Linked DNA regions of Homo sapiens. The protein of the gene in region 4 interacts with the protein of the main gene of each other region in a biochemical or structural test. Each region holds a gene or a part of one and is shown on either strand. Other genes may lie near its edges. The genes, in order: RALBP1, DOCK4, UBAC1, CARD14, SLC15A5, DGKZ and ABCC4.

Region 1 (3,500 bases), on a different chromosome or scaffold from region 4:
GCTGGCGTGAAAACATAGCATCGGGAAAATCGGTAAAGCAAAGTTAATCCATCCCTTCTTATATTGGTTCTGGCTGCTATACCATGATTCCTTTATTTAGGCAAGATGTAGAAGCAAGAGAAACAAAAGCCAAACCTCCATCAGCCCTGTCCTAGGTCAGTCAGGGGACTCTTCATTTAAAGGCTGACTGGCAATGCCATATGATTAACAATTACAATTTGCCCCTGAAGCCTGAGTGGTCCATCTCTAATACCTGATTCTAGGCTGAGACATGAAGGGAAAATTTTAACAGCAACACCAACACCAAAAACAAAAAACACGTAAAGGAAGCAAGAGATAGATAACCTAGTGAGCTAGGAAAAAGAAGGAAGAAAAATACGCAGAGGGCTTCTGCTACATTACATATCCTGGAGCGCACGTGTAAAAGTCCCATGAATGTGCCCCGTGTGACAAAGCTATCCTCCACATTAATACAAATCTCTAACCTCAAAGAAACAGAAGTATTCAGGTTGTCTTTGTCTCTTTAACACAACCACAACAGAGACCTACTATCATGTTCCCCAATTCAGGCAAGGGCTAACTAATGTTCCTTGGATGTGCTGTTTAGATGCTGCAGTTGATCTGCAATGTGGATTTTAAGGTGATCCAGAGATCTGGGATTTTACCATTGCTGTGGCTGGTACACTCACAGTCCCAGAACCAAGCAACACACACTAAACAAGAGGGAACTCAAAAGTCTGACTGGCATACCCTAAACTCATCAGGTATTGCAGGCCACTCTTATTATTATTACATAAATAGAATCTCTCCTGATCTTCAAGGCCTTCCAGGTGACCCTCATCACTACATTTCCAAAGAGCTGACTAATTCTAAATGCCTTAAATTCCCCAGCAGTCCCCAAAGGTGTGTCACCATCCAGCCTGTTTTTCATCCATAGAAAGCCCTGTTTACAGGTATAACCAAGCAGGAAATGACAAATTTTTTAGTAAAATCATTTTTAATTAAAACAAAACTTTCTAGGCCAGGCATGGTGGCTTATGCCTATAATCCTAGCACTTTGGGGGGTGGGAGGACTGCTTGAGCCCAGAAGTTTGAGACCAGTCTGGGCAGCATAACAAGACCCTATTTCTACAAACAATAAAAAATGAGCCGAGCATGGTGGCGCACACCTGTAGTCCCAGCTACTCAGGAGGCTGAGGTAGGAGGATCCCTTGAGCCCAGGAGGTCGAGGCTACAGTGAGCCATTATCGTGCCACTGCACTCCAGCCTGGGTGACAGAGCAAGATCCTGTCTCAAAAAAAAAAAAAAAAAAAAACTTTCTAGATTACACTGAAACATGTGACTGACACCAGGCTGCAATATCAATAATATAGGACTAGAAACATTTTAGTGAATAAATGTCCCACCAGAGAAGTTCACTTCAAGTGACATTATAATATTCTTAACAGAAAGAACTTGGGCTGGGGGTGGTGGCTCATGTCTGTAATCCCAGCACTCTGGGGGAGGCCGAGGTGGGAGGATTACTTGAGGCCAAGAGTTTGAGACCACCCTGGTCAACATCAAAAGAAAAAAGAAAGAAAGAAAAAAAAAGAGTACATAAAGTACATAAAAGACTCAAACACATTCTATTATAAACATTAGGTATCAAAATAATAACTCACCTGTCTTTTAGCTTCTCTCAGTTTTCTTTTGAGGGCTGTCAAAATTCTTTGTACTTCCCATAATCTTTCTTCTTTAGACAAATCCTTTATCCCACCCTGCAGATCTCGATGTAAACAATTCAAAAGAAACTCCTAGAAAGCAAATGCCACACACCTAGTTGCATTTCATATCCTCTTATCTTAAACTAACAACACGTGCAATTTCTAAAGATGAAGAATCAACTATTTTTCAATTATCCTTTATTTCATTAGAGTAAAATAATGGCACTAATTATTTTTTTGAAGATATGATTGAAAAATCATTCTTATTGTTTTGCCTATTAATTATTCACTAATTTGTATTGGTTCAATAATACTTAATCCACATCCCCATCTCCAATGTCATCATCATTAACTAGTAAGCATTGGGAGCTCAGGGCAGATACAAGGGAAGAAAAGCAAGCAGGGGTTTGATAAATTGCATGCAAATAAATAATCAAATGTAATTAACTTTCTTATTTAGTCTTGAATTACACACACACACACACACACACACACACGGCATTGTTACTTCCATCAAAATAGCACAGTAAAAAATCCCAGGATTTGGGCTCAAATCTTGGGTCTGTAATTAGTAATCATGTCACACAGGGTAAGTTACTTAACTTCCCTGAATTTTAATATTCTTATCTATAAAATATGGCTGATGACAGCAACCTTGTCAAGAAAAGGCAAACATCTTTAGACTATTTACAACGTGCCTGGCATGTTTCATATATTATCTCATTTGGGGTAATCTTCACATCAATCCTATAAGAGGATCCATTTTAAAGCAAGAACACCAGTGCTTAAGGTGGTTAAGAATTTGCCTAAAATCAGTTAACTAGATCAGAGCAAGAATTTAAAGCCAGGTGTTTTGATTCCAAAAACTATGCTCTTTCCACCATGGTATTCTGACTTATTTGGCATGAAACAGTACCAGATGGGAATTTCTGACTTCAGTGTGCCTAACATAGCTCCAGACACACAGAAAGTGTTCAGGAAACAAGAGCCCATCACCACTGGACTCCACAACAGCCAATGCAGAGGCAGGCTGTGGCAGGCAGGGTGCACACACCTGTCTCCTGATCTCCTCCTTGATGCCCGCCTGGGTCTCTGGCAGCGTGGGCATCGTGGCCATGTTAGACCATCGCAGAGGTTTCATCACTTGCTTTAGTACCACATTTCCAAAGAGTTCTTGCACATGTGTGAAAAACACATACAGGACTCGATTGCTGATCTAAGAAAAAAAGATTTACAAGAAAACCATTAAAACTATCATTCTATTTCACTTATTTGTGTCTATTACATAATATATCCTTTAATCCTGGACACATAAAGAAAATTCTACCCAGTAATGACAACACAGTCTTTGCTAGTTAATAGCCAATTTAAGAAGAAAATGGTAAAATATGAGTTAAATCATGTATTCAAGCACCAGAAAGATCTGAAGGGAAAAAAAGTCAAGAAAAGGATAGAGAAGTTGATGCCATCCATTTGTTTATTTTTTCTATCACAGTATTAACTGATTTAAACATCTTATTTTTTGTGTGTTTTTTGTTGTTGGTGGCGGTGGTGGTGCTTTTTTGAGATGGAGCCTCGCTCTGTAGCCCAGGCTAGAGTGCAGTGGCACAATCTCAGCTCACTGCAACCTCCACCTCACGGGTTCAAGCGATTTTCCTGCCTCAGCCTCCCCGGTAAGCTGGGATTACAGGCGTGTGCCACCATACCTGGCTGATTTTTTTGTATTTTCAGTAGAGACGGAGTTTCACCATGTTGGCCAGGCTGGGCTCGAACTGCTGACCTCAAATGATCTACCCA
Region 2 (3,500 bases), on a different chromosome or scaffold from region 4:
GGATGAAAACCAGACACGACCTCATTTTCTAATCCAAAGAGCATGCTTTACTTATTAATTTGGCATTATTGGGTAGAAAGAAATGCCTTTGTCATGTTTCATCACACATATTCCACTTTTCACAGGAAGCAAATGTCTTTATTTCCTGTTTAACACAGGCTTCCAACCATGTCTCCTACCTCAGAGGTTTTCAAACCATTTCAGGCTATCAATAGGGACACAGTAGGCAACAGATTACTCATTCCAGTTCTTTGTACTTGATGGTTCCAAATAAATAAACCACGCTTCTCTGGGGGTAGAAAATGATGAGTTGTATGTAGTTTTGTCCATATCATGTAACCTATAGGTTTACTTTGCAAAATATGACACTGCTTTAAAGCAAGATCTACTGATTGCCCACTTCCTTATTACAATGCTTAAGTAAAAATTTCATTCATGCCTCATATTTGGAGTTGGCCTGAACTTTTCTGAGCACAGAATTTTGAGTGAAAAGTTGGCATCGGCCAGGCGCGGTGGCTCACGCCTGTAATCCCAGCACTTTGGGAGGCTGAGGCGGGTGGATCACAAGGTCAGGAGATCGAGACCATCCTGGCTAACACAGTGAAACCCCGTCTCTACTAAAAATGCAAAAAAAATTAGCCAGGTGTGGTGGCGGGCACTTGTGGTCCCAGCTACTTGGGAGGCTGAGGCAGGAGAATGGCGTGAACCCAGGAGGCGGAGCTTGCAGTGAGCAGAGATCATGCCACTGCACTCCAGCCTGGGTGACAGAGGGAGACTCCGTCTTAAAAAAAAAAAAAAAAAAAAAAAAAAAGTTGGCATCAAGCCTACAGCAAGTCTCTAGGAAGAGAACATTCAAAGAATGTTTTAAGAGACCACATGAAGTTGTTTGTTTCACAGGTTGAACATCCCTAATACAAAAACTGAAAATCAGAAATCCTCCAAAATTTGAAGCCTTTTGAATGCCAACATCCCACAAGTGGAAAATTCCACACCCAACCTCACGTGATGGGTTGCAGTCGAAACTTCATGCACAAAATTATTAAAATATTATATAAAATGACCTTCAGGCTATGTGTATAAGATATATATGAAATAATAAATTTTGTTATTTGACTTGGGTCCCTCCCCCAAGATATCTCTTATGTATATGCAAATATTTCAAAATCTGAAACACTTATGGTCCCAAGTATTTTGGATAAAGGATACTCAACCTGTAACTGGCTGCCATAGTCTACTCATTGTTAAATTAATTTTTGCATCGGAGTGGGAAGAAGAAGTAGAAATTAGCAAGCTGGGATATATTACAGGAATCTGTCACCCTTGCTTGCCAGCTTCTGTTAGACCACTGATGCAGGAAACCATGCAGAGGGGGCTCTAGGTAAGCAAGCACATATCCAGGCAAAATAGAAGGGGGTTGGCTTCTGCTTCCCTTACCTGCTCAAGCATCAGCTCTCTTAATCGTGCAATTTTCTCCCCATCTTCAGGGTGACTTAAGATATATTCTTTGACAAAGAATGCCTAGTAAGGGAAAGGAGAATCAGTCTACTTTAGTGGAGTACAAGGCAAGTCAAAGACAAGTTGTTTTTAAAGACCTGGCATCTTTATGGAAATGACACCATTACAAACCACATTTTGGGACAGATGGGCTGATTACTAGTGTAGGTGGTTGGTCAGAATGGGAACATAAGGAAAGAATTGTTAAAGGAAGATCAGTGATTGTACAATAAGTACCCTTGCTAAAATAAAGAACAAGCCCAAATCAGTAAGCTATATGGCTTGTATCCTAAAACAAACTGCCTTAAGATTCAGTGTGACCTAGATGGTGGCCTTACCTTCCAGGGTATTATATCTTTCTGTTTAAGAGAGCAGATGAAAGGTCCACTTAAAGTATCATCTAAGCAAGATCGGTCTTATCTTTTTTTTTTTTTTTTTTTTTTTTTTTAAATAAGAGATAAGATCTTCCTATGTTGCTCAAGCTGGTCTCAAACCAAAGTGCTGGGATTACAGGTGTGAGCCACTGAGCCCAGCCCAGATCAGACTTTTCTATGCCCATGAACTTCTTTGCTTAGAGAAATTATTTTAGACGGATATTTATTAAACAGTCCTAATGTCCTTTCTACTTTTATTCATGCAAGAATGAACACACACACACACATTTTTATTATCCAAATATAACATGTTGGGAAAATGGAGTTACTGGGCAATTACAAATGACTGTATGTTTGCTCTATTTAACAAAGGACTCTGTGTCAATCGCAGCCCTATGTTTGCGTGCTGATATGGGTACATAGTCTGAAAAAAGATTCATGAAACCCTAAGAAGTCACAATTGAAAACTTTCTCTGAAACAACAATACCTAATCCTTACCTCTTGATACCTGGAAACGCCACCATTAACTGCAGCATCTATAACTCCATTCAGGCACATAGTCAGGGGATTAATATTCTGCATCTGTCTTGTCTGACACTGACTAATCAGAGTCTTCAGCTGCTGATTCTTATTTTCTAGCACTTCAATTGCATTTTCCAGAGGACTCATTTCTACCTGAGAAGCAAATGAACATAAATATATATTGAATTTGTGACATTCAAGAAGAAAGACAAAGTAGTTTATCCATGTTCTGAATTATCTGTGCTCCCCCTTGGCTTCCATCAATATCTCTACCAGGGGCCATTCCGTAGAATAGACAAGGATGTGGAAGTCAAGTGGGATGTTCATTAGCAAGGTTTGGAAAGGGCAGGTAATTATACTTATTCATTGAAATGTGGTTTGGATAATCATCAATTCTACATTAGCACTGCAACAACCAATTTAATCCTTAAAATAATATCCAAGCATCTCATGTCTTTTAAAACTAGTTTTTTTTTTCTTTTGAAGGGTTAAATATTCAGAGACCCTGAATATTATCCCCTTTCTCATGCTTATTTGATACAAAGCACCATGGGAGATATAAAGATGCATTTATGGATCCTCTGATGTCAAGGAGCTTTCAGCCCAGTTGGGAAGATGGGACATATGCCACATGAACCTCATATATATATATAACAGCACCATAAGGTGGCACAGGATGGCACACAGTTGGGAATTATAGAAAACAAGATAATATATACTGCAGGATCTATTTGTTGGAGAGCCAAATAGAATCATAATGACTTAAAAATTCCAGGCTGTATGGAGGACCTAATTGTGAAAATGATAAAAGTGCTCTTCAAATGTATGTCATTGGGACTGCTATTGCCTTGAAGAGAAGGTCTGCCAAGCTCTCAGCAATCAAGTAATTCAGGACTACAATTAGCATATTTAAATATTGGTTCATTCAGGCAAGGAAACAAATTAGAGTTTTTAAAGGTCACTTGGATCATCTTAAACCAACACTGAAAAATCCTAGAATATGAAGACTGAACATTCATCAAAGACAAAGAGAAGGGAAGATAAGCAAGAACATAGAAGATTTTGTAACATGTGTAACCATCAAAAAGCACGTGTTCAGGGTATATAAG
Region 3 (2,453 bases), on a different chromosome or scaffold from region 4:
AAAACAATGAAAAGACCTAGATGTGTGGAGAGAAACATTTTCCGAAAACATTCTTACTCAGCTACAATGCAAGCAGAGTTCAGAAGGGGAGGGGGCTGGTTCAGAAGAGAAGTTCAAAACAAACAGCTCGGAACTGACTGCTTCCAGCAACAATAATGAGCAGAGTTCACAAAAAACAAAATAAATTCATTTTCTCATTTTAAGACACCGGTCATGTTTTTTAAAATGAAAAAAAAGGAGGAAGAGGCCAGAGGTAGGCGGAGGCAGCCGTGCTTGGGCTCAGGACCTGTGTCCCAGGAATACGGGCTCAGCTCCAGTCCCTTAAACCCAATACAACACGAGGCTTTGCCAACCAAACATGGCCACAAGGCCTCCCACATGCTGCGGTGGCCCCGGTGCCCGCCCCGGGTCAGAGCAGCCGGCACGGAGCCGCGGGGATGTGGCCTCTCGGGGACGCACGGGTTTCTTGTGCGGCACCAAGAAAAGACGAAGACAGGAAATAGGAAAAGGGACTTTATTAAAGAAAAGTCATCTGTGAGTGACTAGTTAAATTAGCATGCTTGACATTAACTCTGGGTTGAAACCTACCTCCGTCAAATAACAAGTGGACTCTCCAAGCAAATGTCTACACGGCAATTCAAGCAGCAACTCAAGAGCCCAGAGGAGCACTGGAGACGAGGCCATCACTCCACTTCCCAGTGCGACAACCACTTTTTTGTAAACACCTGTCAGATGCTAAAAATACGGCCTTACACACTACCGTCACCAAAGTTTATAAGCAATAAGATCAGAGAGCAGGAGCAGCTGCAGCACCTCTAACAGTCCAGGGCTGAGGCGCTGAAGGTGAGTTTCCAGGTGAGGTCCACTCTGCCCGGTCTCGGGCCGCACCAGGGGGCTGCTGTGGCCTGATAGCCGAGTGGAACAACGCCACCTACGTGCGATTTAGTGTCTGGAAGATTCTAGAGATCTGCAGCATGACAGGCCCCGTTTCTGGATCATTCATCCACTGGGTGCTGTTCAGTGGGTTCTCCAGCATGTCTTCAAATGCTGCAGGGAAAACAGAGCCAGCCTGAGTGCCCACGCCCCCACTCAGCCCACAGGCACAGGCGTGACTTTCCTCTTCGGCAGCTTCCTAATGAAGAGGGTGCGTCTCCAATACAAAGGCCACACAGAGCTCACTGCTAAGTGTGCACTCTCAGGCTGAAACCCACCCAACTCCATCGGATGCACCCATCAAATCAGATCTGATCACAGAGAGTCATGCACTCAATTCTGGCAGGTGGGCAGTGTGCCTGTGCGTGCTCATGGCACCCCCACTCTCGGCAGCTGTCTGGCAGCCGCCAGGGCTCAAAAATCATCTTCCCCAACAACTCCACTTCCAATCCCACCCCGAGAAGGTCAGCAGATGCAGAAAGGACACACACAGACACTGTTGCAAAGTTAACAACAAACTGGAAAAACGTAATGCTCAGCCTTCAGAAAATTCCTTCTTCAAAAAACCAGCACATTAAAAATGCAACACAGCACTTCTTCAAAATGAAAACTTGGGTTTTAACAGCTTTACAAAACTGTTTCCCCAAAACAGGTGGCTTTTAGCAAAAAGCTCTCTGTTCCACCCACTGTGAAGGAGCACGCGTTCTGCCAGCCCCTCTGCCAGGATCGATGGCTCCATGCTGACCTGACACACATGGACGCACTTCAGCATAAGTGGCCCCAGGTCTACAGGCTCCAGGGACAGTGCTCACTACAGAATTCACAGCCATTCACGGCCCAGTAGCCCATGGCTGAGCACAGAGCTCAGAGTGAACCCAACTTGGCTCTGTTCATGATTGGACAATCCCCAGGCCTTAAAACAATCCTCTGGTGTTCTGATTAAAAGTCTCCAAAAACCACTTTAAAATCTCAGAAAAAGCCAGGCACGGTGGCTCATGCCTGTAATTCCAACACTTTGGGAGGCCGAAGCAGGCGGATCATGAGGTCAGGAGATCGAGACCATCCTGGCTAATACGGTAAAACCCTGTCTCTACTAAAAATATAAAAAATTAGCTGGGCGTGGTGGCAGGCGCCTATAATCCCAGCTACTCGGAAGGCTGAGGCAGGAGAATAGCATGAACCAGGGAGGCGGAGCTGGCAGTGAGCCGAGATTGCGCCACTGCACTCCAGCCTGGGCAGCAGAGTGAGACTCCGTCTCAAAAAATAAAAATAAAAATCCCAGAAAAAGACTCAGAAAGAACAAACTATAAGGTGCGAAACAGCTGTTTCACACACAGGGCGGGGAACTTAATTTCCCATTTCCTCTCAATAAACAGCAAAATAAATTCTGGAAGGATGAAAGAGTTGAACAAAAAGATAAAGAGTTAAATATGAAAAACCACACAGATGATTATTTATCTGAGGAAGGACTTTCCTTTTTGAATTTAATTTTTTTTTGAGACAGCGACTTGCTTTGTTGC
Region 4 (3,500 bases):
TGGCCCAGGGGTTGGGGAACCCTGCTCTTAAGGTTCCCAATTATCAGCTCTGAGGTAGTTCAAGCAACAGAGCCCCTTGACGATGTTCAGGGAGATAGTCCCGATATCCTAAGGGGGCCAATTAGATTCTAATGGTGTTAAAACACATCTTAATTTTTATTGTAAAAATATCTACTCTCCTAAGCTTAGAACAATATTGAGAAGAAATGAAGTGGATGGTGGAAGCCCTGGGGGGTGGGCCTTCACAGTGGGGAAGGCTGTGGGTGGAGAGCCAGGGCATCGGGTAGGTGAAGGCCAGGGATGCCACTCAGCATCCTGTAGGGCCCGGTATAGCCCGCAGCAGCACAGAATGATCCCAAGGCTAAGAAACCTCTATCTAGAATGCTCTTGAATGTTCTAGAACCGAGGTTCTTTCTTTTCTTTTCTTTTCTTTTTCAAGACAGGAAAGTGCTTATCACAAAGAACCCCCGATCTCGACTGGGGAAGGGTTGGCAGTTGACTCTCTGGCCAGCACTATGTGTAGCACGCATCACTAGAGGTGTGAAGGCCCCACAGAGGCTCTGGTGTGTGGCTTTGTTTTGACCAAGGCGTGCAGGCAGTGGTCCTACGGCAGGGCTGGCCCGCGCCTCGCCTCAGTGCCCTCAGCGCCTTCTGTCTTCTGGCTGGATTCAGAGTCCCGGGGGAAAGAGACTGACCTTCTCGACTTGCCCTCAGGTTGATTACGAAGCCTCAGAGCCCTTGTTCAAGGCAGTCCTGGAGGACACGACCCTGGAGGAGGCCGTGGGGCTTCTCAGGAGGGTGGACGGCTTCTGCTGCCTGTCTGTGAAGGTCAACACGGACGGTACACATACCACTCCTCTCGTGTGCACAGCTGCCTGGCCAGACTCCATGACCCTTAAGTCCCTGGTGGTTCTTCTGCACGCCCAGCAGCCAGGGACCCCCAGAGCCAAGAGAGGATCAGCCAGGCTGTGCCCCAGGTCCCCAGGAGGCCCCCAAGCCAGCTGGAAACCTCCCACCCACTGACTCCAGTGCCAGAGCAGCTTCTGAGACTGGGAGGGTCCTTCCTTCTCTCCTACTTTAATTTTCTGCAACCTTCCTCGCAGAGGCTCGTATCTGTGGCTCATCTGTGGCTCATGTCCCCTTTTATCAGGTTATAAGAGGCTACTCCAGGACCTGGAGGCCAAAGTGGCGACCTCGGGGGACTCATTCTACATCCGGGTCAACCTGGCCATGGAGGGCAGGGCCAAAGGGGAGCTGCAGGTGCATTGCAACGAGGTCCTGCACGTCACCGACACCATGTTCCAGGGCTGCGGCTGCTGGCATGCCCACCGCGTGAACTCTTACACCATGAAGGATACTGCCGCGCACGGCACCATCCCCAACTACTCCAGGTGAGCAGCTGCCTCGAGCTCGGTGCGTCCCCAGAGAGGCCCACAGGGAAATGGCACCCAGCCTGCCTCGGCTTCCTCCTCCTGCCCAGCAATAGAGGGTGGGCGTGGTGAGACCCCCCTAAGGAGGGAAGCCTGCCAAGATCACTGCTGAAGATGTTGTTTCTTTGTGATGGATGCTTTATATATTGCAAATGAAATGTTCATTCTAGAACATTCTAGATCTGGGTTTCTTAGCTCTGGGTTTCTTAGCTTTGGTACCATGGACGTTTGGGGCTGGATCCCCGTCTGTGGTGGGGCCGTCCTGGGCACTGCAGGATATAGAGCAGCATCCCTGGCCGCCCTACCCAGGATGCCGGGACTACTCCCATGCCCCAGCTGTGACAACCAGAAATGTCTCTATAGGTTGCCAAGGGTCCCCTGGTTCTCCTAGGACTGTCTTGGTCTTAGCACTGAAAGCCCCACTTGCAGGGAAGCCCCTCGGTCCTGGGCAAGCAGGGACAGCTGGTCACCCTCCCTGGGGAGTGACATTGCCCCCTGCCTTGCTCCATTGAAAACCACTGCTCTAGGCCGAGCATGGTGGCTCACACCTGTAATCCAAACACTTTGGGAGGCCGAGGCGGGTGGATCATCTGAGGTCAGGAGTTCGAGACCAGCCTGGGTAACCTGGTGAAACCCTGTCTCTATTAAAAATACAAAAAACTTAGCTGGGCGTGGTGGCAGGTGCCTGTAATCCCAGCTACTCAGGAGGCTGAGGCAGGAGAATCACTTGAACCCCGGAGGCAGAGGTTGCAGTGAGCCGGGATTGAGCCATTGCACTCCAGCCTGGGCGACAGAGTGAGACTCTGTCTCAAAAAAAAAAAAAAAGAAAAGGAAACCATTGTTCTAGATCAGCCTATGGGAGGCTCCAAGTTTCAAGTGCACGGAACGCACAGTGCTAGAAAGCAGGAGTGTTGAGCTCAGCACCCCCATCACTCATTGCAAACTCAAGTCCCCTGGGGATCGGAGCCAGCAGGTCCAGGGAGAGGCCTGGCACTCTGCATTTCTAACAGCTCTCTCGGTGACTCCAGGCTGCAGGCCAGGGACCCACCATGAATATTGAGGTCCTGGAGTGGGGCCCTGTACGCTGGCTGCTCAACAGCACCCCCTGGGTCCCGCCCCAGGACAAGTAAATCAGCATCTCCAGGGGTGGGCCGAGGCCCTGGAGTCTTTTGAAAGCTCTGGAGACTGGCATGGCCGCCAGGATGGAGCGCTCCAGCCTGCAGCAAAGGGATGTGTGGAGCTCTAGGTGGAGGCCCTTCTCTCCCACCCGGCCATCTCCCCCACTCTCCCCTGCTCGGCTCTCCCCTGCCCTGCTCACCTGGCAGGAGGCAGCTGGGTCAGGGCCTCTGCTGGTCTCTGCAGGGCTCAGCAGCAGCTCATAGCCCTCATCCAGGACATGACTCAGCAGTGCACCGTGACCCGCAAGGTGAGGCTCCAGGGAGGGGCCTGGACCCCACTGGGGTGGGCTGGAAGAGGGGCTCGGTGCTGGCAGGGTGGCAGGAGGCACTGTGTGGAGAGTGGGCTGCTGATTGGAGGGTAACCCCACCTGTCTCTCCTCTGCACCCCTTCAAACCAGGGCAGGGTCTGCAGCCCCTGCCCAGCCTGCAGGCTCTTGCACAAGTGCAGACACACCTCAGGCTGTTCTCAGAGCATCTGCGCCTCTGCATCACTCCCAGGTCGCCCTAGTGCCAATCATCTCCCCTGAATTCCCATTCCTGTTGATGGCTTCAACAGCTCCTCCTCATCCTTTCTCTGTCCCTCCTTTAGCCATCTTCTGGGGGACCACAGAAGCTGGTCCGCATCGTCAGTATGGACAAAGCCAAGGCCAGCCCTCTGCGTTTGTCCTTTGACAGGGGCCAGTTGGACCCCAGCAGGATGGAGGGTGAGGCCTGGTGAGCTGGCACAGGGGCCACTGGCTCCAAGTGGGTGAGGGGCTTTGGGAGCTGCTGCTAGTTGGTCAGCTGGGGCAGGGGGATGCCACTCATTTAGGCCAGGATCTGGTCTTCAAGAATCATGGGGCTGGGTGTGGTGGCGCACACCTGTAATCCCAGATACTCGGGAGGCTGAGGC
Region 5 (3,959 bases), on a different chromosome or scaffold from region 4:
ACCAAAGTAGCAATGCTGAGCAGAGACAAATAGCTACCATTACAATGAGGCTATTAGAAGGGGTCAAAACAGAGTATTTTGCCCCCAGTCTCTCACAACCAAAAGATGATAACCAGAGTCAAAAGTCCCTATTGGTCTTTAGGTTTTGACTACAGCATGAAAATAACATTCCTATACTCAAGTGTTGAATTATTATGACTTTGACCCAATAGTTCCGGTCCCTTTTCTTCCTATGTCCTTGCAGCTAAGCCACTAAATGTTAAGGTGTTCTCTTTCACTGCTGCTTTTTTAGCTTAATTGGCCCTCCTGCTTTCCAAAATAGAATGCTAACACCCATTCACCCAGCTGAAGGGTCAGGGTGATACCAGATCCAATATTCCCCAAAGCCTGTGTAGGCTGGTTGCTGTATCCCTGACTACTGATTAATAATAAAGGAGTTAAATAGCACCTTTTGATTCTGATTTCCTCTGAGAGGCTGTTCTACAAGCATGGGGTCAACTAAAAGGAAGCAGGGTTTCGTTTAATATTTTCTCCTTTCATTAGTGCACTTAAATTACTTTCTTGTAAACTCTGCTTGTTACCTAAATGTACTAGCACTTTTGTTACCTAATTAAGTTTCTTATCAGAATTCCAACCAAAAATAACAAGAAATGTAATAATGATAAGATATCGTGCCCTTCAAAACAGATTTCCTTTTGCGCTTTATCTCTTGGTACTGTTCTGGCTTGTTTAATTAAAGTATCAGAAATTATTAGACTCAAATTATTTCTTGATCTAGTGCTCAAATTCTCCCGAAAACCTGCTTCTTCTGCCTCAATATTTAAACCTTTATCAGTATGAGGCAGATGAGTTTCCACATGTTTGCAACTGGATTCATGTAATTCAATACAATTTTGGAGGACGATCCTAATTTAGCCGCTAAGTAATTAAGCAAACAAATCAGATTTGGGTACACTGAGCTACTGTGAACATTTAAATACTCATGCTCTTGGATCATCAAAAGGAACAACGTCCATGTGCAAAAAACAAACCTTATGAAATTCTAGCATGGAGATGTGAAATTCAAAGCAACGTTCTTATTTTTTTCATCAGAGGGATGGGGCTCAAAATATCACCAAGTTCAAACCACTAACATAAGTTTTGTTCAAGGAGGGTAGTCATGTCTGTTACAGGCTTTACCATAACTGATGAGAAAGTACACTTATATCACAGCATTGAGAAGGAGAAAACTGTAAGACATATTGGCGATTTGTGTTCCTCACACTCTGTGAAAAAAATTCAGGTTGGAATCTGCTTGCTTCTGGTGGAGCTGTGTGAGAGGTTCACGTTCTTTGAAGTCGTCTGCAACATGATCCCCTTTTGCACTATCAAGCTTGGCTATCACAATTGCCAAGCAGCCATCTTAAACTTGTGTTTTATTGGAACTTCAATACTTACCCCTGTGTTTGTCAGATGGCTCACTGATGTCTATTTAGGAAGAAACAAACTGGTGTACATTTGCTTGTTTCTACATTTTCTAGGTGAGTGTCCTCTGCTGACTGGATTGTTTTGTGACTTAATTAAGTAGATTTTTGTTAGAATTTTTAGTTTATATTATTTTCACTCTGCTCTTAGCATAAAATGTGATAAATGAAGTAAGAATGTGGGTTCAATGTATTTCATTCTTTGTACTATTTGAAGAATGCTAGTAAGTCTGTGTGTGTGTGTGTGTGTGTTAGAGAATGTTTTGTGCCTATATCATTGCATTTATATTTTATAATAATTACTCCTTTACATATCTATCTTACTCCTTAGAATGCCCTCCTTTCCCAAAACCTTTTTACCTCAAGCCTAAATTCATGACAAATTCCCTCAGAAATGTGAAATGTATTTGCTTCACAACTAAGATGAAATGTGCTAAAAAAGGTTTTTGAAGTTCATGTAAAATAATTGAGAAATGTTTTTATCCAAAGGTGGTCTTTTAATTAGTCATATAGTAATTAAGATTGCATATGATGGCATGATTTCTATATTTTTAACTATGATTATATGCTTTAGAAATGAGTAAATTAGACACTATAGTGTGCATCTTTACATATATACTAATATATATCTGCAAAAGTTTGGGACCGATTGTGAGAAATGCTGGGAAAATATCAAGATAGTTTAATAAGAAATAGAGAGCAACTTGAAGAACAGACTAGAATTTTAAACTGAAAAGTTCAAGTTATTCTTCTTAAGCAACAAGAAGTCTCTGAAAATATCATGAAAACAACATTTGAGAAATGCTATTCTGCAATACAGGATGGACAACCACAGTGAGGAATTAAATAGAGAGAGATCAGAAAATCTCAGGATGATGGTTTAAGCAATAAAGTGCCAATTCAGGAGAGAACAAGTGAAAAGCTGTAAGGCAACTAAATAAAGGTACAAATGTGATGGGGGTCAAAAATTAGCTCCAAGTTTCTGATCTGAGCAACTTGGGAATATAGCATGCTGTTCACCAATAATGAGAAGTGCAGCTGAAATGAGTATTGGTAGGGGGACAGATGAGAAAGAGATGGATAGATATCAGGTACTCAACATATCACACAATCTCAGGCAGGTGGTAAATTACCATTCAGAGAATCCATTGGAGTTTAAGTCAAACCTGGAAACTTCACAGCTTTAGTTCTGTGGAATAAAAACTAGGTCACTGCATGGCAAATAATCACTCAACATTCAACAAATATTTCTTATTGACTACTCTGTACCAGACATTATTCTGGGTCTGGAAATGCAATAGAGAAGAAAGTCGTCTGTTCCTGCTAAAGTTGACTTTTTGGTGCAGGGAGAGAGAAAATAAAAGAGGAAATAGATATGATGTCATGTGGCAATGAGTTAGGATGGAAAAATAAAGCTGGGTAGGGGGACAGGATGGAATGGATGGTGATGAGGCTGCTACTTGGTACCGAGAAAAAGTTTTCTGATAAGAAGACATTTAAGCAAATCCCAGACTAACTTACTCTGCTTACCTTGGTAACAGGCCACACCAGTAGCATTTGTTGACTTCTTGTTTAACATGGTAATTTCTATCAGTCTAAATTCTGAGGTCAGTCATCAGACAGGATGGAAATCCCAACTTTGGAATCTGGCAAACAAAAGACTTAAGTCAACTCTACATCCATTCATTTTTTTACTAAAAGTTATTTCTTTGTTGCCCTCCACTTACAGCTGCCATCAAATTCCAACTGTCACTAAATTTCAGAGGTTATATATAAGAAAGGTCTTCTGTCTGAATTGCTACTACCCTAGCTGAAAAAATGCAGCTTTCTTCTTTTTAACCATTCCAATGGCCTACTTACTCGGCTGCCAGTTCTCAGTCAGTCTCCAGCTTGTACTCCATTCTACCAACAACACTGACTTCCTGAACAAATAAATCTCTATATTGCTTCTATTATCTAAAAAATGAAATCCAAACTTATTAATTTAGCATACAACAACCTTACCAACCTATTCTAAGTTCACCTCTCTAGACTTGTTGTTCAACACGCAACCCCAACCTTGCTAACTTCTCCTGGCCTCCTTCCCTAGTTTTCTAATCTTGTACATGCTCTTCTCTCTTTCTGAAATTGTCACCTTCCCTTATCTTTCCATCCCTTATCCATGATTGGAAAACTCCTGCTATTCTTTCAAGAACCAAATAGTGTTTGTTGCTAGCTTCTCTGTGTTCAACCACACCCATATAATACTTATACGATTGCATCCATCACTTTATAATATAATTGTCCACCTGCATGGCTGACTTCTCTGATGGACTCAACATTTCCTTCAGCGGACCCCCATCACCTGGCAGGGGGTATGACACATCATGGTGCTTCTACAGAGCTACTAAATGCAGGCATACTGATGATGAGATACACAATTGCACACATCACAGAGGAGACTTTTCTTCATATATGTCATTGTTTTGTCTCTTTACTGCATCATTTTACAACAGA
Region 6 (3,500 bases), on a different chromosome or scaffold from region 4:
CTTCACCTGCACGGAATACCTGCCTGTTACTCTGCAGTCGGAGGCCTGGGCTTGGGTTGGTGCCTCAGTGGACAGGACTGTGCCGGCCAGGCATGTGTGCCCAGGGCTCCGTTGGTGCGTGAAGCTCAAAGGCTGTGTTTGTGTAAGGCTGTGTCTGGGCCCTATCCCCACCCCACTGAGCCTCCTGCCCCCAACCAGGCAGAAAGGAGGGGCCCCAGAGGGAGAGGCCTCACCTTGAGGGGGTGCAGCATCCCCTTGCAGTGACCTGCAACAGAGCATGATGTGCTGTGACCGGCTACGGCACAGGCCAGCTGGTCGCCCTCCCCAACCCCAACTGGGGGCATCTTCATCCTTTCCACAGTTTATTGAGTGCCTGCTACACACCAAGCACTATTCCAGGCACTGGGGATACAGCAGGGAAACGAGACAGAGGAAGGCCTTGCCCTCATGGAGCTTACATTCTAGTTCAGGGATACAAACAAGTCAAATAAATAAGGAGTTCTGAGAGCAGGGGTGCTCTTAAGAATTCAGAACAGGTGATGTGGCACCCCTGCAGAGGGGGTCCTGGGAGTGATCTCTCCAAGGAGGAAACAGCCAAGCTGAGATTCGAAGGGGATGGGGGTGGGGGAGCTCCGGAAAGATGGGGGAAGAGTTGGAGGCAGCGATGACAGAAGTCCAGTGGTGGCAAACACCTGATGCCTCAAAGAACCAAGAGAAGAGAGTGGGGCAGGACCATGGAGGTGAACTCAGGGAGGGGGCTGGGAGCCCAGTGCAATGACGGGGGGCCTGGGGAGAATCCACGTCCAAAGGGCTGCTGAGAAAGAAGCTTCTAGGTTGGGGAGTGGCCTGGTATGCTCTGCATTTTTAGTTGACCGTGGTATGGAGATGGGGGTTCGAGGGCACGAATGGCCACAGGGATATAAGAGCTGGGGGCCAGGGCGTGGCAGCCGGGAAGGGCTGGTGGCAGTAGGGGTGGGGAGGAGTGCTCAGGTGGTGGGTCCGGGGGCTGCCAGGACTGGCTGAAGGATGAGGTCCAGAGGAGGGAGAAGTCAGGGAGGGAACCAGGGTGGACGTGAGGCCGCTTCCCCACAGAACCACAGGGCTGAAGGCCGTCAGGTGGGCTTTGGCCAGGTTCAGGTTGACACCATTTAGTTAACTGGTGGAGGGGCTAGAAGCAGGGATTCAGAAGTCATCGGCTTACAGGTGGGGCTGAAAGCCAGGGGCTGGAGGGACGGGACACCAGGACTCACCGGGGCGTGGGTGAGCAGGGTGAGGTGGGGAGAGGGGAAGTGGGGGTTGGGAGGTCAGGCCGGGCCGATGCCCCCAGCAGCTCAGGGTCCAGGATATAAATCTCATCCTGTGCGATCTCAGTCACATAGTTGAGGTGCTCCTGTGGGGGGAGGTCAGGGCGGGAGGTCAGGGCACCTGACGGTGGGGGCCGAGGGGCAGCAAGGCTGGTAGACCTGGAGAAGCCTCTGCCATGAGCACAAACACTGAAAGGAGGTGGCCAGGCAAGGGGCCCTGCCTGTCCCTCTCCCACTCCTTCCCATTCCTGACACCTCCTCCGACTGCCCAGACTTTACCAGGTGAGCTGGCGCCTGACCAGAATGCCTTTGCTTCTGTGTCTCCCTGGATGGCTCTGGGCTTCCAGGCCCTCCTACCCACCCAGCAAGCCTTTGGTAGGTACCCCACTGCCTTTCTGGCTGGCACCGCCCTATACTCTCCAGTGTGGAGGGCAGGGCCGCACGCTGTCCATGCACACAGGCAATAGTAAAAGCTCTCAGAGGCATGAGGACAGAGGTGAGCCCATCGGGGGAGCTAACAGGGAAGGCGTCCCAGGAGAGGCGACCCTGGGGCCCGGAAGCAGCTGTGGCTGGAGCAGGCCTGCAATCGCTCACCTGGGCTCGGTCGATCCTGTAGAAGCGGCTGGCAGTGGTGGCTGTGGGAGAGAGGGCAGCTGAGGATCAGGGAGTGCCATGTCCAGGCCCAGGTCCTCTGCTGCCCCTACCTGGGATCCCCTAGGGAGGGAACACGAAACAGCTTGGCACCCTGGGAGTAGACTCACCGTCCAGGAAGCACCACTTGGGGGACAGTTTCTGGCATGTCGGGGACTTGGCTCCAGCACCATCGGGCTCCTGTTGAGAGAAGCAAAGGCCAGGCTGGGATAGAGTGGGGGCCAGGGAGGGAAGGGAACTTGGAGTAGGGGGAACCAGCACAGAGGAGGCTCCGCAGGGCGAGCTGGCTGCGGGAGGAAGAGGCCTGGCCTCACTTCCCACCACCCTCTCGGTGGGCACCTGGGGAAGCCCCCACCCCTTACCTGCTGGAGTCTCTCAATGTGGGCACGGCAGAGCTCTAGGTCACTGTCTCCTGGGACCACCACAGTGCCCAGCGGCACAGCTGGAGAACAGAGCACCTGTCAGCAGCTGGCTGCACCCCACAGCCCTGCCCAAGGGGGCCCCGGCTGCTTCAGCCCCTCCTGGCCACCCTGCCAGGCCGCCCCACCGCACTCACAGGCCTCCTTGAGCTGCTCCTTGTCGTAGTGCAGGGCCTCATAGTCGTGCATGCTGACGCGACTCACCTGGATGCGCAACTGCTCTGGCACCGGCTGCTGGCTGTCGGGCAGGGCCGGCAAGCGGGGGCTCAGCAAGGGCCCTGCCTTGGTGCCACCCTCGGCCTGGCACCAAACCACTTGCCGAGAGAAGGTCCCGCTCCACTCCCAACACCCCTGGGGCAGAGGGACAGTCAGCCCCTTTTACAGATGGGGAAATCAAGGCCCAGAGAGGGCAGGGTCTGGCCTTGGCACCCAGGGCACGTGGCAGGGTGGGACGTACTCGCTGTGCAGGGGGGCGGCGCTCCGCCGCTTGGCCTTCTGCACCATGGTGGCCTGGTTGCGCAGGGCGATGCGGATGCGTGAGGCTGCAAGCTTGCAGGGCTCGCCATCCACCTGCACCGGGATGGCCTTGGATGTGGTGAGCACCACCTCGCGACACTGCGTCAGCCGCTCGCCGTGTCCGCCCACCTGCAGCGCGGCCTGTGGGCACAGGAAGCTTGGGTCAGATGGCACCAGGGCTGGGGGCAGGGGGGTCCCAGACTCTGCTCCTTCCGAAGCAGAAACTCTAGCCAGAGAACAAAGGTGAGAGTGACCCCTGGCCAGAGGGCAGAGGGGAGGCTGAGACCCCAGGTAGGAAAGGGAAGGGACAGAGGCAATGAGGGTGACGCTCCAGTCAGAGTGGGGAGTGAAGGTATCCCGAGGCATAGTGAGGAGAGGGGGTAGGTGCCGCTCTCAAGCCAGAGGAATGAGACAAAGAAGGGAGGTGAGGGTGAACTAGGCCGCCGTGGCCCATGGAGGTGAGTATGGGTGACCCCTTCCACCTTTGGGCTGTGCTCCCAGGCACCATGGGCCCAGGGCCCACTCACCAACGACGTCATGGTGAAGCCAATGACCTCGAGGTAGCCGTCGTCATGCCGCTGGGGCTCAAAGTCGTGGTGCTCCCCAGGGT
Region 7 (3,500 bases), on a different chromosome or scaffold from region 4:
ATGTTGTGGGAGGGACCCGGTGGGAGGTAATTGAATCATGGGGGCAGGTCTTTCCTGTGGTGTTCTCATGATAGTGAATAAGTATCATGAGATCTGATGGTTTTATAAGGGGAAGTTTCCCTGCACAAACTCTCTTTGCCTGCTGCCATCCATATAAGATGTGACTTGCTCCTCCTTGCCTGCCATCATGAGTCTGAGGCCTCCCCATCCATGTGGAACTTTAAGTCCATTAAACCTCTCTTTCTTCTGTAAATTGCCTAGTCTTGGGTATACCTTTATCAGCAGTGTGAAAACAGACTAATACAGGACCAAAGGATGGAGGAGGAGAAAGGCTGGAACAGAAGCTGCAGCAGTGGAGGGGAAGAGAAGGACTTGAGAAATGCAACAAAGTAAAAATCGACAGAATTAGACATAGGAGTGTTGGTGACACAAAGCCAGAGTTGACTTCCTGGAAAAATCCATGAGTAATTAGGTATCAAACAGAGTATCCTGGGTCACGTTAAGCTCCAGCCCTGAGGCCCGGGGCCCACCAACCACAGTAAAGCAGTTCACAGCAGGAAGAATGTTGGTATCCACATTCCATGGTTAGTTTCCAAGACAGGTTAACCTACGTATCACTGATCCCCTTCACACATCCACAAGGAAGACAACAAGCAGACATAGCACTAAATCTTCTGAAATTGAGAAGAGGCAAGATGCTTTAAACAAACCTTTTCTTGTGATTTAATGAGTGCTGTCAGATGCTTCAGTACCAGAGGCCCACCTGGACTGTACATGAAGTTCACATTGTCAAAGATTATCACTCCTTCATGGGGCCAGGCTGGTGGTGGGCGTTTCTGATATTCCCAAGGTGCTTCTTTTTCAAGGTCTGTGTATTCAATGACCCTTTCTACTGAGATCATCTGAAAGAAATATGACATCCCGAGGGGTTAGGAATGGAGGGTGTCATTTATGGATGTTAAGAGACTGTCAATGAAATGTTCTTCTTTCATACATAGTTGGTTAAGGAGAGAAGCAGGAGACAGACGAGGATGTTGATGACTTACAAATTTGGTTCATCATTGTGTAACACCTTCACTTACAACCACTTCCTTCAACATTAGGTTAAAAGAATGAGAGAAATGAATGCTTAGATTTTATTTATCCACTTCTCACACCTGTATTAAAGGCAAGAAAATTTTGTAAAGGAAAGGAATACTTAGAGCCACCAATCAAGAATCTTTTGCTGGCTGGGCGCGGTGGCTCATGCCTATAATCCCAGCACTTTGGGAGGCCGGGGCAGGTGGATCACCTAAGGTCAGGTGTTTGACACCAGCCTGGTCAACATGGTGAAACCCCATTTCTACTAAAAATACAAAAATTAGCTGGGCGTGGTGCTGCATGCCTGTAATCCCAGCTACTCAGGAGGCTGAGGCAGGAAAATCGCTTGAACCCGGGAGGCGGAGGTTGCAGTGAGCCAAGATCGCACTATTGCACTCCAGCCTGGGGTACAAGAGCAAAACTCTGTCCCCTCACCCCTACCCCCCAAAAAAGAATCTTTTGCTATAGAAGGATCACCTGATATAGGTCAGTTAAACTGGATGATCGTGAAACCTCACTGTAATAATTACTCAACTTTTGCTCTATGAGAAGAATGAAAAGATTTTTATGTTTATTGCTTTTCTCTCTTTAGGGGAAGGTGCAAATATTTAAAACATTGATTAAAGCCTCCTATACCACCATAAACTAATACCCTTTGACTAGCACATTCCAAGAGGAGGCTTTCTGTACCAAGAAGGCACACCAGCAAAGTTAAGGCCTTCCTCCCTTCTGTTCTTCACATAAGAGAGTAAACGCTAGAACTGGGAGAGGAGGAGACCTATTAATTAAATGTAAACAACCTCAAAATACTGAAGTCTTCTTTTAACAGGAATGAGGAATTACCCGTTAAGAAACAAAATTAAACAGGCTTCTAAGAAATTAGCTTATATCCTCTCTAGAATTTCAGAACCTCCCTCCTACAGAGACATTTATTACATCTGAAAAAGCTTGTGATGAATATAAAACCTGCTGACAGAGCAACCATAAGACTCAGAAAAAGATGTATATATTTTATTTTACATTAACTTTAAACAGATGGAGGAAGGATCTTAAAAAAAATCTGTTACCAAAGATGTAAAAATAACAGTTTTAATATTTCACATAAGAATGGCTTTTATACCATTTAATGGCAAGGAGATTGAAAAGGCAAAGAACGTGAAGGTAAATATTACCATATTCTCAACTTCAGCACTTTGTCGAACACACCACTGAAACATCCCCATGAGCGTGAGGGCATAGGACAGTGCCAAACCAACCTGCCCGGCATCCAGAGCTACGTAAGGAGGAAGAAGGGAATAAAGTCAGTCTCACTTCAAACCTAAGCCTGGCTCCTTCTGCCACTTACCAAGAGGAACCCTTCATAATGTTGAAACAATTCACATTTAATGACATTAATAGCTATACTTTTACCATTTGTTGCTTGAGATCAAGATACAATGGGGAAAACAACACTGTATATTTAGAAAAATTTTTAGATGATTTTATGAATTCCAACAGGATCGACATAGATTTAATTAACAGTATTACAAACGCAAGAAATAATGTCATTATTCAGACATTCATTATTATGGTTTCAAAGCTCATTACATTATTCCACTTTCTACGTGCAATGCAACCACAGCTGGAAACCACTAAAAACAAAGCAATAGGTTGTAAGTGCCAATGCTTTTGAGACTAAAATACTACTCTCCTTGTTCCATTATTAAGTATTGTAATGCACTGTTGTTACTGGGGTGGTGAACTCATGCCCTGCTTGTCTGGTACCCATGTGGCATTGAAGATAATACTCTCCTGCTGAGAATTTTTCTCAACCTCATGCACCAGGCAACTACAAACAATAGATTCAAGTAGTTGGAAGGCTAACACCCTAAGTTGGACAAAATGCTTCAGAATAAATTGGTTTTCTCTTCACAACTACCAGACACTAACAGGAATGTTCAGAATCTCAACTGCGCATATCTCAACCCATTCAAAGAAAGATAAACCCATCAAGACCCAAATGACTCCTTAAATGAGTCACACTGCTGAATCCTACCCAACCTGACACATCGTAAATGATTTAATACACTTCATTAGGACCAAACAGTATGTAGTAGTAGACAAGGTGGCAAGAGTTTAATAAATGTAAACACAGCTATAAATTGTAATCATACCATACATAGTTATTCACATCTGTACTTACTTTTTGCCAGAATCAGGGACCCAAAGGCAACGATGATGACAAACATGGCACAGATGGCATCCAGACGGACGGCAAACCAGCGGGACGTTGTCAAAAACAAGAACCAAGCCTCTGAATTTGAGAACGGTAATAAGCATGATGAATAAGTAGATGAATGTGCGAGTGTGTTTTGCTCAGTTGAGCTACAGAAGATTTTTACGTGGAGTAGGGCACCAAAGTTGCACACCCAAGGAACCTT

Evidence for each region.
Region 1: the proteins of CARD14 (region 4) and RALBP1 interact in a test that uses a peptide from one of them, tested with the Homo sapiens proteins (one large-scale study listed by IntAct).
Region 2: the proteins of CARD14 (region 4) and DOCK4 interact in a test that uses a peptide from one of them, tested with the Homo sapiens proteins (one large-scale study listed by IntAct).
Region 3: the proteins of CARD14 (region 4) and UBAC1 form a complex in vitro, tested with the Homo sapiens proteins (one study listed by BioGRID).
Region 5: the proteins of CARD14 (region 4) and SLC15A5 interact in a test that uses a peptide from one of them, tested with the Homo sapiens proteins (one large-scale study listed by IntAct).
Region 6: the proteins of CARD14 (region 4) and DGKZ interact in a test that uses a peptide from one of them, tested with the Homo sapiens proteins (one large-scale study listed by IntAct).
Region 7: the proteins of CARD14 (region 4) and ABCC4 interact in a test that uses a peptide from one of them, tested with the Homo sapiens proteins (one large-scale study listed by IntAct).

Annotation. Positions count from the first base shown.
Region 1 is NC_000018.10:9,524,013-9,527,512, reverse strand, and holds part of RALBP1 (ralA-binding protein 1), read right to left. Parts: intron 2,920-3,500; coding exon 2,758-2,919; intron 1,794-2,757; coding exon 1,662-1,793; intron 1-1,661. UniProt on the Homo sapiens protein: Multifunctional protein that functions as a downstream effector of RALA and RALB. As a GTPase-activating protein/GAP can inactivate CDC42 and RAC1 by stimulating their GTPase activity.
Region 2 is NC_000007.14:111,744,900-111,748,399, forward strand, and holds part of DOCK4 (dedicator of cytokinesis protein 4), read right to left. Parts: intron 2,545-3,500; coding exon 2,368-2,544; intron 1,519-2,367; coding exon 1,435-1,518; intron 1-1,434. UniProt on the Homo sapiens protein: Functions as a guanine nucleotide exchange factor (GEF) that promotes the exchange of GDP to GTP, converting inactive GDP-bound small GTPases into their active GTP-bound form. Involved in regulation of adherens junction between cells.
Region 3 is NC_000009.12:135,932,469-135,934,921, forward strand, and holds the end of UBAC1 (ubiquitin-associated domain-containing protein 1), read right to left. Parts: intron 1,048-2,453; coding exon 932-1,047; 3' UTR 501-931; downstream 1-500.
Region 4 is NC_000017.11:80,201,030-80,204,529, forward strand, and holds part of CARD14 (caspase recruitment domain-containing protein 14), read left to right. Parts: exon of another isoform or gene 1-714; coding exon 715-841; exon of another isoform or gene 842-1,150; coding exon 1,151-1,391; coding exon of another isoform or gene 1,392-1,395; exon of another isoform or gene 1,396-2,647; intron 2,648-2,748; exon of another isoform or gene 2,749-2,792; coding exon 2,793-2,856; exon of another isoform or gene 2,857-3,197; coding exon 3,198-3,312; coding exon of another isoform or gene 3,313-3,322; exon of another isoform or gene 3,323-3,500. UniProt on the Homo sapiens protein: Acts as a scaffolding protein that can activate the inflammatory transcription factor NF-kappa-B and p38/JNK MAP kinase signaling pathways.
Region 5 is NC_000012.12:16,274,886-16,278,844, reverse strand, and holds the start of SLC15A5 (solute carrier family 15 member 5), read left to right. Parts: upstream 1-1,159; coding exon 1,160-1,520; intron 1,521-2,319; exon of another isoform or gene 2,320-2,652; intron 2,653-2,993; exon of another isoform or gene 2,994-3,959. UniProt on the Homo sapiens protein: Proton oligopeptide cotransporter.
Region 6 is NC_000011.10:46,374,963-46,378,462, reverse strand, and holds part of DGKZ (diacylglycerol kinase zeta), read right to left. Parts: coding exon 3,418-3,500; intron 3,032-3,417; coding exon 2,832-3,031; intron 2,613-2,831; coding exon 2,512-2,612; intron 2,398-2,511; coding exon 2,318-2,397; intron 2,136-2,317; coding exon 2,066-2,135; intron 2,062-2,065; exon of another isoform or gene 1,979-2,061; intron 1,940-1,978; coding exon 1,899-1,939; intron 1,391-1,898; coding exon 1,251-1,390; intron 266-1,250; coding exon 234-265; intron 7-233; coding exon 1-6. UniProt on the Homo sapiens protein: Diacylglycerol kinase that converts diacylglycerol/DAG into phosphatidic acid/phosphatidate/PA and regulates the respective levels of these two bioactive lipids.
Region 7 is NC_000013.11:95,070,952-95,074,451, forward strand, and holds part of ABCC4 (ATP-binding cassette sub-family C member 4), read right to left. Parts: intron 3,374-3,500; coding exon 3,263-3,373; intron 2,354-3,262; coding exon 2,253-2,353; intron 903-2,252; coding exon 711-902; intron 1-710. UniProt on the Homo sapiens protein: ATP-dependent transporter of the ATP-binding cassette (ABC) family that actively extrudes physiological compounds and xenobiotics from cells.